2 separate regions of the Homo sapiens genome follow, and region 1 is linked to region 2. The links come from fine-mapping of genetic effects on gene expression. A gene starts in region 2. The other region holds a variant in brackets. All regions are shown on one strand. Distances are from middle to middle.

Region 1 (5,381 bases), 61 kb after region 2:
TTATAATAGCCCATAGAGGTACACTTCCCCTTTGTACAGGTGAGGAAACCGAGAGAGGCAGAGAGGTTAATAAACTTGTCCCCAGAGTAACATGTAAGAAAATGATAGAGATAGGACATATCATGAAGCAATTTCCAAAGCGTATCTGGCATATACCAGCTTCGCTTCCAGAGACATCTACCTGACCAGAGGTAGAGCAGTAGTTTACACTTCTTCACTTGTTCAGACAATAAAGAAAATGGGTTTTGAGGAAGCCCTGTATGCCTTTCTAAAAGTGCTTTCTAAGACAGAGTACATATTTCCTGATCTTCTGTATATCCGTCATCAAACTCAACTGTCATCTTCTTAATGCCAGGTAGATACTAAACCACAAATCCTCCAAAACAACTGGGCAGAAAGTAGAAGACAATCAGCAGCATTCACTGCTTTCTAAGAAGGCAATTCCCAGGAATACAGTCCTGAAGGTTTAAGTTGAAAAAGAAACTTGATCTTAGTAGGTATGTAATCAGTTTAGCTCACTAAAAACAAAACAAAACAAGACAAAAAACAAACAAACAAACAAACAAAAAAACAACTCTGTCAGGTGGAAGGAACGTGAAACGTGTTAACCCATGAAAAACAGAAGCAGGCCAGAAGGAAGCCAGCTAGAATCTAGGGTTTAGAATGCGAGCAGTGCCTGTCAATCTACCCTTCAGTTCTAGATTTGAGAAAAGTAGTCAACCACCACACCAATGGACAATGAGCAGGACCAACAGAAACTCCATCCACCTACCTATTGAAAACCTGGAGCTTTAATAGGTCTTGCCTTGTTCAAGAAGTAGAGAAGAAAAATAAAACAATTCCTATGGTAGAAAAAAAAAAGATACTGTGCAACAAAGAAAAACCGTATCGAGATGGTTTTTGAGGAAGAATACACATGTGAAAACCAGCTAGTCTGGGATCCAGAAAAATATTTAAGAAATAGTCTGGCATCCTCAGAAAAGTACAAGAAGATATGGTGTCTATGAACCAGGAGCTGCATGGAGACAGATGTATCCAGTAAGGACTAGAGTGAAGCTAAGATATAATGGAAGGGAGACAAAACACTCCCTATCTCTGGAAACAAAATAAAATGGAATACAGGGTGCCAGTTAACCCTTGCAGTAAATGATAATTTAAAAGGAAAATACAAAATACCCACAGGTGAATGATAACGAAAGTATCTCATATCAAAATTTACTGGAAGTCGCTAAGGCAGAGGAAATTTATAGGTTTGAGTAGATTTTCTGTTTTTCCTATTTATTTATATATTAAAGATATATACATGAGGATATTTATCCCCATTTTACAAAAGAGGAAAAAGAAGCTAAGAGAAGTTGAGTAGCTTGTCAAAGTTCACACTACCAGTAATAGCAGAGCCAGGATCTGAACCAGGAGGTCTGGTTCACTCTTAATAAGACAGAAAAATCTCTAGCAAGGTTAAGAAAAAAAGAAAAGATATGAATAAGCAAAATACATGATAAAGAGAGAAAGAAAAAAATGTTTTGAACAACTAGCTTACACTCCAATAAATACGTATATATTAGTTTCCTAGAGCTCTTATAACAAAATACCATAGACTGAGTGGCTTAAGCAACAGAAATGCATTTTCTCACAGCTTTGGAGGCTAGAAGTCTAAGATCAAGGTGTTGGTAGGTTTGGTTTCCCCTGAGGCCTCTCTCCTTGGCTTGCAGATGACTGACTGCCTTCCTACTGTATCCTCACGTGGTCTTTCTTCTGTGTGCAGGCATGCCTGCTGTCACATGTATCTCCTTATAACAACAGCAGGCAGGTTAGATTTGGGCCCACCCTAACAGCCTCATTTTAACATAATCACCTCTCTGAAGGCCCTATCTCTAAATACAGTCACAATTCGAGGAATTGAGGATTAAGACTTTATATGAATTTTCTAGGAATATGATTCAGCCCATAACAGTCTAGAAAAGTGGGTTTCGGGGAAAAAAAACCCACAACTTCCCAGCATAAATGTGAAATAGAAAATTAAATACACCAATAATATAACATGATTATTAATCCTTTCCTTTTACTACCACATTCCTAGTAGATAGAGACTGTGGTTGTTTTACAGGTGAGTCCAAACACACTTTCCAAGGAACAGAAAATCCCTATATTACTTTAGTTGTATCAGAAAATAAAAGATAAGAAAAAGTTGCCCAACTCATTTCATTCTAAAAGTGGATTGAATAGGTATAATAAATAAAAGTAAATTATAGACCAATGTTTAAGACATAGGTACAAAAATCCCAGACTTTATATTATTTAAAAGTAATTACAGCAATATGTATAGGAATTAATACATCATTATCAAGTTCAATTTATTCCAGGTATGTAAATATACTTCAACTTTGGTACAAGTTTGGTACAACTTCAGACACATTATCTTTCAGGTAATTTGCTAATGTTACTAAAAAAAAAAAAACACCCCAGAAGAAAAGTTAAAACCCTAAACAAAAACAAGAAAAAGAAGAGTATAAGAATTAGAAGAAAAAAGAGGAAATTAGCATTTTAGAAATTTTATATGATGATTTAATATGGAACACCTACAACAAGCTACAGATACATTACTAAAATTGATTAAAAAGTTTAGATAAGTTGTTGGATAAAAATCAATATACAAATACATTGTATTTCTATACAACAGCAACAAAGCTCTAAAAGAGCTGAAATTAAAAGTTACAATTTAATTTACAATGGCAATTTTACACA[T/TACACAC]ACACACACACACACACACACACCAGGGAATGAGCTGAAAAAATAAAGACCTTAATGGAGACAATTATTAAATTTATTAAAAGATATTAAAAATACCAGAATTAATAGAAGATATATCATATGTATGAATTTGTAGACAAAATATTTTGAGATGCTGTATCTACTCAAATGGAACAATATATTCAATGGGATTAAAATATGTATCTGAAGGCAATCTGTGTTGTACTAAAAAGCTTGAAATGACAAAGCTTGAAAGCTGGTTCTAAAATTTATATAGATGACTTGAGGGTCTGAGAATGACCCAAATTGTCCTGAAAAAGATGAAGCAAATTTTATTATTAAGCTTATTAAATAAGAAGTGAGTGAGTGACTGGTATGAGGACTAAGGGACCAAGGGAGCAATGGAACATAACAAACTTGGTATGTGACAGAGGTGGCATTGCTGAAAACCAGTGAAATGAGGGAATTGGTCAACATATGGGGTTGAAATAATTGGTTACTTACATGGAAGAAGTGGAATTGGATGTTCACTTTACCATGAACATAGATATCAATTCCATGTCTATTAAAAATGTAAATGTGAGGCTGGGTGCGATGGCTCAAGCCTGTAATCCCAGCACTTTGGGAGGCCAAGGCAGGCGTATCACAAGGTCAGGAGTTCGAGACCAGCTTGGCCAATATGGTGAAACCCTGTCTCTACTAAAGATACAAAAAAATTAGCCAGGCGTGGTGGCACACACCTGTAATCCCAACTACTTGGGAGGCTGAGGCAGGAGAATTACTTGAACCTGGGAGGTGGAGGTTGCAGTGAGCCGAGATTGTGCCACTACACTCCAGCCTGGGTGACAGAGTGAGACTCTGTCTCAAAAAAAAAAAAAAAAAGTAAATGTGGAAGGTAAAAGTCTACAAAGGGAGTATCTGTGACTTGGGGCAGGGAAATATTGCTTAGACAAAACACAAAGCGCACAAACCATAAAGAGAAAGATTGGTAAATTTGAGCACATTAAGAACCTCTGTTCATCAGGAGACACTGTAAGGACAGCAGAAAGCAGACTTGGAGAATGTTGTGTGTGTGTGCGTGTGTGTATCTAGCAAATAATTAGTATTCAGATATACAAATCAATATTGATTTTTCTACAAATCAATAAGAAAAAGACAATACCATGGACATGTTCTCAAACTCCTTAGTAATCTTGGAAATGAAAATTAAAACGACAATGTATCACCATTTCCTACCTATCAGATTGGAAAAATACAACCTGATATTACAAAAAACTGTTGATGTAGGACAATGAGAACCTTAGACAATGATAGATTCAGCATGGAATTAACCTAAAGGAATAAGGCCTGTCTCCTAAGTTTTTGAGGGAGTTACGATATCACAACAACCTTAGGCTTGTGTGGCATCAGCCTGTGAATATTAACTTATATCAAGGCCACCGCTATAAAATCAAAGTCCTTAAAATGCCCTACCAGGACTTGGTATGTATGATCTGGTTCTCCCTTGCTTCTCTAATCTCACTTGTTACTACTTTCCCATCACTCTTGCCATCCTCAGTCCTTGGAAGTATTTCTCGATTATTCTTTTATATTTGCCATTCCCTCTTACCGGAATATCCATCCTCCAGATATCCACATGGCTCTGTCTCTTCATTCATTCTAGTGCCTGCTGAAAGGTCATCTTTTTAAGATGATTTCTCTGATAATTTTATCTGAAAAGTGACCACCCATCCTACTTGTCACTATCTTCTTCCTTGTTTTTTTTTCTTTATAACCTTCATCATGACTTTACATTTTAAATTTTTAATTTTTTCCCTTCTCTCCTTTTTTTTTTGAGATAAAGTCTTGCTCTGTTGTCTAGGCTGGAGTGCAGTGGCACAGTCATAGATCACTGCAGGGTAATTTTAAATTTTTTGTAGAGGTAGGGTCTTGTTACATTGCCCAGGCTGGTCTCGAACCCCTAGCTTCAAGAGATCCTCTTGCCTCGGCCTTCCAAAGTGCTGGGATTAAAAGCACCAGTCACTGTGCCTGGCCTTTACACTTTTTTATTGTGTGTTTGTATCCGTCCACTAGGCTACTATTGCGATACCCCTAGTTCCCAGATTACTTGGCCCATAGTAGGAGCTTAATATTTGTGTAATCAGGGGACATGAAATTCCTTATAAGCTCTTATTTAATAGAATTAACAAAATATTTTACTTCTAGATTTTAAAATCTAATTTACTAACATCATTTGGGAATTTTGTTACATATACATGCCTCCCACACTTTTTTTTTTAAAAAAGAGTTCGTTTATCACACACTTGTTTTTTAAACTAATGATTTGCTTTCAAGTCAGTGTTGTCACACGTCCAAGGTTTTCCTACATTCTGGTCAATATTTATTCTATTGTGGACTGTACAAAGAGAGCGTCATCAGTTGTTCTTTTAACACTGAGACTTGTCAATATGAACTAGGAAAGAATGATGATAAAGAACACCGAAGGTACAGGAGGACTCTGGGTGAGGCATAGTGCCATCAGATCAGAATCCTGAGTATTTCATGCAACTGAAAAGCCTCTGGCTTCAATAATAACTCATGGGGAAGGAAAGTTGTTCCACACCCAAAGAGATCATATTTTGTAACAAGCCAATGAG
Region 2 (5,381 bases):
CCGGCTGGGTCCTTGTGCATTAGACTGGCCAAAGACAGATGAACAAAAGTAAAGCAAGTTTATCAACACGTGCGTTGTTCATATAGGTAACATGGGAATACTCAGAGATAAGCAACTCAAAGATTTGGTTAGAACTTGGGTTTATACAGCATATTAGCCAAGGAACAATAAATTTTTAAAGAAATGACAAGATAAAGGATCTTGAGTCTCTAGGGGCAGCAAATTGTCGGAAAACAAATATATGGGAGACTAGTTGCAGATGAAGGCCAAATACTAAGGTTTATCATGTAGATTTTTCTTGTGTTGTCTCCAGGCTGACAGGGGTCTAAAATTGTCTCTGGTGATTAATCTTTGTCTTTCCTGGTAGAGCAGGAAGGAGGTACACCTTCGTAAACTTATATCCTGCTTTTTGGCAAATAGAGGGAGGGCAGAGTGCTTTTCTAGTACCGTGTACCTATTTGCTTCTTCCTAATTGCCTTCAGCTCAAAATAATCCTTAAACCAAAGTGGCATACACTGCCAATGCTCTTGAGTAGATTGAAGGCTCCAAAGTAAAAAGTGCTGTACTGTAGTATTGGATCTCCAAGCATCAGCAGTGAGTCAGGTATTACAATGCTGTTTTCAGTGAGTGTGCCATCCGTCTATGAGGAGAAATGAGAGGAGCTAGAAAAATAAACTGACAGCTAGAAAAATACTCCACTGAATCAACAAATAGACATTTCTTGAAACAGTAACATGCTCAATGTGCAATTTTGAAAAAGTAAACTGAGCAAGGATCATGAAACATGATGGTGGTGAGAATTTATACTTCTCAGGTAGCCAGGGGAAGCTAGGTTTCCACAGATTCCTTTGTCTTTCAGTCCTTTTGAAAACGGAGAAAAAGCAAGAGAAGAGGGACGGCACCATCAGGTAGAGTGGATCTCAGCTAGAATGAGGGGAAGTGGCCCAGAATCCAACCTCCTCCAAAGAGCTGTGTGACAGGCAAGTCCTATCCTTTCTGCACCTCTTTCCTTAAATGTAAGTTGAAGCATTTGGACCAGACTGTTTCAATGATCTTCTAGATTGCTTTTGCCAAAACAGAACTCTCCATTCCTGTAAGATAAGTACACAATGGCTCTCAGAGATCTAAAAACTGGCCTTGGTTACCTGCAAACTTTGAGGCCCCAAGGCACAAAAATAATAGCTTTTTTTTTTTATTTTTTTTTTTAAGGTTCATGAAAGCTTCGGACACAAAAGCTTATATGGTCTTCGTCTCTATAAATAAACCAGGGAGTAAAGAAAAACCCCGCTAGTTTCAGTAAAGCGTTGCTATTAAGCAAAGCAAACCTATGCAAATATCAAGTTCTTAATGAGGAGTGTTTCCTAAGGGGCCTGTCCTCTGGTACCCCGCCTCTCCTCTGCCACAGTCATGTGAAGGCAGACAGGCACACACTCGCACACTAGCACGCACTTGGGAGCTCAGGGAACATAACACTGGTTAGTGAGTCGGTGTCCCTCTCCCATCGATTGCAACTTTTCCCCTCCTTCCCTCTCCTGCCTCTCCCCACTTTCTACATCTCCGTTCTCAGGAAGGCTCAGGGAGGATCCCCCGCTGCGTGCACTGCGTTCTGAGAGGCCGGGGAGAGACTCTGGGCCCGCGGTCGGGGCGGAGCCAAGGTCCCAACCCACATTGAACGGGCTTGAGGATTACTTGGAGGGCTCAGGATCTAGGAGGAGGGCCCAGGGCACTGGGTTGGGGTTACTCTGGGAAAGCTCTGTGGGACCAGGTGGGACCTTAGGGCTGGAGATGGACTCTGCGAGCTGGGGGCGGAGTTCTAGACTGGCAGGAGCGGAGTTCTGGGTGGCGGGGGCGGGGTCGGGACCAGCAGGGACGGCCTCTGAGAGTTGGGGGCGGAATTCTGGGCCGGTGAGGGCTGGGGCGGGACCAGCAGGGGAGGCCTCCGCGAGCTAGGGGAGGAGCTCTGCATTGTCTGGGGCGGGGCTTCGAGTAGCGGTAGCGAGGTCTGGAGCCGCAGGCGCTGCCTCCGCGAGGTAGGGGAGGAGCTCTGTACTGTCAGGGGCGGGGCTCTGAGTAGCGAGGCCGGGTCTGAACTATCAGGCGCGGCCTCTGCGAGCTGGGGGCGGGGTTCTGCACCGGCGGGGGCGGGGTTGTGAGTGGTGGGGGCGGGGTCTGGAGCAGCAGGCGCCGCGTTTGCGAGCTAAGGTCGGAGTTCTGCACCGGCGGGGGCGGGGCTCTGCGTGGCCGGGGCGGGCTCGGGATCCGCGGGGCGACTCCCGGTCTGGCTTGGGCAGGCTGCCCGGGCCGTGGCAGGAAGCCGGAAGCAGCCGCGGCCCCAGTTCGGGAGACATGGCGGGCGTTAAAGGTACATCGCGGTCCCCGGCTCGCTTGTCGTGTGGTGGGGTTGCCACCTCCGTTCCGGTCAAGCCTGGGGCTGCGCCTTCCGCGCGCCGTTGGGGAACGGCCTCACCACCCTTCCCGCCTCTCCGGTTCGGGAGGCGATCGACCGCTCCCTTCGTCCCTTGGGGTGTGGGTGGAGCGGCGTTTCGGGGGAGCCTTGGCCCTTTTTGCAAGGCCGCTGGCCTTCCTGCTCTCCAGTGGCGGCACCAGACCCCTCCCCAGCCTGAGCCCTCGGCGAGAGCGGCGCCCTCCACCTCTCCTGAGTTTTTAAACAAGGTTTCCACTTCTTGACGCCACCCTAACGCCTTTCTTCTGGTTTTCTGCCCCTCCGCAGTTTCCTATTTGCCACAAAGGACCCTTTGTCTCCAGCGTTCTTAGCATTGGGAAACTTAATCCTCTTTTTCCTAATGATTTTTCCAACTGGGCAGAGTTGACCGCGGGCGGGTGTCAATGGAAAGCACCCAGAAAGACGGTGTTTCTCGCAGTCGTGGAGAGTAGATTACGTGTAATTTTAATACTGCTTTCTTCGGTGTTTTCTCTGTTTATGGACAGAGAAGAAACCAGTGTGTGTGTAGTATGTGTTTTTTGCATGGGGCAGTTGGTAAAAACACCGCGTCCCTTATCTGTATGGCTTCAGAGCAATGCGAGACGGAAAAGGTTTTTTGCAAGGCTTCCTGTATTTTGGTAGGAAAACATTCCATTTCTAATCTGTCGAATAGAGTAGCATGACTTGTTTTTATATTGGCTTTTATATCATCCTTGAAATTTGCACCCAAAGATATCCCCAGTTAACATCTGCTATAAACATGTAGATAGTATATATACGAGTACGCCTCTGTTCACTATGAATTTATCCGAGTATGTGAGCTGTTAGCAGCAGACATTTTATCGTTATTTCTGGCTGACTTTTATACTTAATATCAGTTTAGTAAACATGGTTTACTTGGAGAGTGTCGACTGTGTTATATATCCATTTGAAGCCAATGCCGAAAACAGATGAAAAGTAGTGTCTCAGTACTACACATGATCAGAAACTACCAAATCATGATCACGTTTATGTGTGAATGTGTTAGAAAATTGTGATGTAGTGAAAAAAAAGGAAGTCTGAAATGGAAACGGACTAAGGGAAGGAAGCATTTTACAGATTGTTCAACTTTTATTGAGGAACTACTGTATGCCAGAGACTTAGGATACAAAGATAAATGAGAAGTTATTGGTGGGTGACAGAGCTGGAAATAATTATATTACTATGTCAGTGTTTATGTTGGGCTCAGATGCGGTGGGAGAACAGATGGTGGGTTGGATTTTGTCCTCCAAAAAGATGTGTTCAAGCTCTAATTCCCTGGTACCTGTGAATGTGATCTTATTTGGAAGTAGTATCTTTGCAGATATAATCAAATTAAAATGATAACTGGTTTAAGGTGGGCCCTAATCCAATGACTGGTGTCCTTATAAGAAGAGGGGAATTTAGACATAGAGACATACAGGGAGAATACCATGGGAAGACGGAGACAGAAATTGGAGTGATGCAGCTACAAAGTCAGGAGCACCAAAGATTGTTGGCAACCATGCTGGCAACCACTGAGTGTTAGGAAGAGGCAAGGAAGGGTGCTTCCCTACAGCCTTCAGAGGGAGTGTGGTGGCGCTGCTGACACCTTGATTTCAGAAGTCCAGCCTCCAGAACTGTCAGAAGATAAATTTCTGTTGTTCTCAGCCATCCAGTTTGTGGTACTTTGTAACGGCAGCCCTAGGAAGCTGATGCAGGTGGGATTGATTCCCCTGCTCCAGAGAAAGGACTGTTTTCACAGAAGAGGCGATGCTTGAACTGAATCTGAAGGGATCAATGTGGCTTCCCTTGGCAAGGCATGGAGTGAAGGTGGAGTATATCCCAAGTGGGGAGGACAGCACGTGACATGGCGCAGGGCTTATGAAACAACATGCCTTCTTCTCTTCAGGTACTTAAGCTACATTAGTAAGACCAGAACTTAGTGGTGAGGGTTGAAGCTGGCTGGACAGGCAGTTAGGAGTGAGTCAGGCGATGGTGAGCCTCCGTGCCAGAACAACTTGTAGGCTGTGGAAGCAACCGCAAAGGGATGGCAGCGGTGATATATATAGTTGAAAGATCACTGTCTGCTGTGTAGAGGATGGATTGGAAGAGTCACAGAGGCAGGAATAAGAGGTTAAGGGCCTGCACCAGGGCTGTAGCAGAGAGTTTAAGAAGTCTGGGAGATTGAGTCACCTTGACCTACTGATTCATTGGAAGGTGGAATGCAATCATGGTGTCAGTCCTCTAAGATAGGACCTTTAAAGTGTAGGGATAGTGGTTTGGTTTTACACGTGTTACACATGTTGAATTTGAGGTTCTTGTTGGCGGTCAAGGCAGAGAAGTCCAGACTGGAGGTGGAAGTACAGGCCTAGTTCTTTAGGACCTACTCTGGGCTGGAGCATCAGTTGCGGCCGGGCCCTTGTGGTAGTAGGAGCTTTGGGTTGAACATAAGTTTTCAGCAGGAGTGCGTGGAGTGAAAAGAGAGATGGGGTTGGATTTTTGGTCAACTCCAACTTTAAGAGATTCAGAGGATGTGATTCCTGAAAAAAGAGGAAAAAAAAGACCAAAAAGAATCAAACAGAAAGATGGTTGTGAACGTTGAGAAACTGGTATCAGAACAGAAGGAAGAGGTCTGCAGTACCTAGCTTTGACAGGCCTCATGGAGGAGGGGGTACTGCCGATGGTCAGGCACAGAGGAGAGGAGCAAAGCCTGCTGGGAAAAGATCATCTGAATGAAATAGTATGTGGTATTTGCTTTCCATCCACACATGGGCATTTTCCATTAAAGAGTGGAAATGTAAAAAGATATGTTAAAATTGACAGTGTTTCTTTGTCCCTTAACATGTGTATACTTTCAGATGTTTTTTAAAAAGCACTTTGGCACCTTCCTATTAAAGAGTCTCTCTAAATCTTCTCTCAAGTAAAAGGAAGCAATCAA

Alleles and levels. Positions count from the first base shown, and alleles are read on the strand shown. Sizes are in standard deviations (SD) of each study's normalised expression.
For the expression in fetal neocortex of the gene that starts at base 2,290 in region 2, allele TACACAC in region 1 goes with a lower level than allele T (moderate effect, 0.70 SD a copy in Walker 2019).

Evidence for each region. PIP is the estimated chance that this variant, and not a neighbour inherited with it, causes the effect.
Region 1: its variant is fine-mapped to the expression of LEPR in fetal neocortex (Walker 2019, PIP 0.95).

Annotation. Positions count from the first base shown.
Region 1 is chr1:65,479,378-65,484,758 of GRCh38, forward strand. All of the region lies in intron 2 of LEPR (leptin receptor), which reads left to right. Among named protein-coding and RNA genes, the nearest start is that of LEPROT, 61 kb to the left of the region's middle. The variant T/TACACAC (reference allele first, on the strand shown) is at 2,746.
Region 2 is chr1:65,418,379-65,423,759 of GRCh38, forward strand. LEPR (leptin receptor) reads left to right here and starts at 2,290. Exons shown (of 20, transcript NM_002303.6): 1 at 2,290-2,362. It overlaps LEPROT (leptin receptor overlapping transcript), which reads left to right and starts at 2,290. Exons shown (of 4, transcript NM_017526.5): 1 at 2,290-2,362. The coding sequence starts at 2,347. RefSeq lists enhancers at 1,604-2,136, 2,137-2,670, 2,744-2,793 and silencers at 1,784-1,853, 1,874-2,373.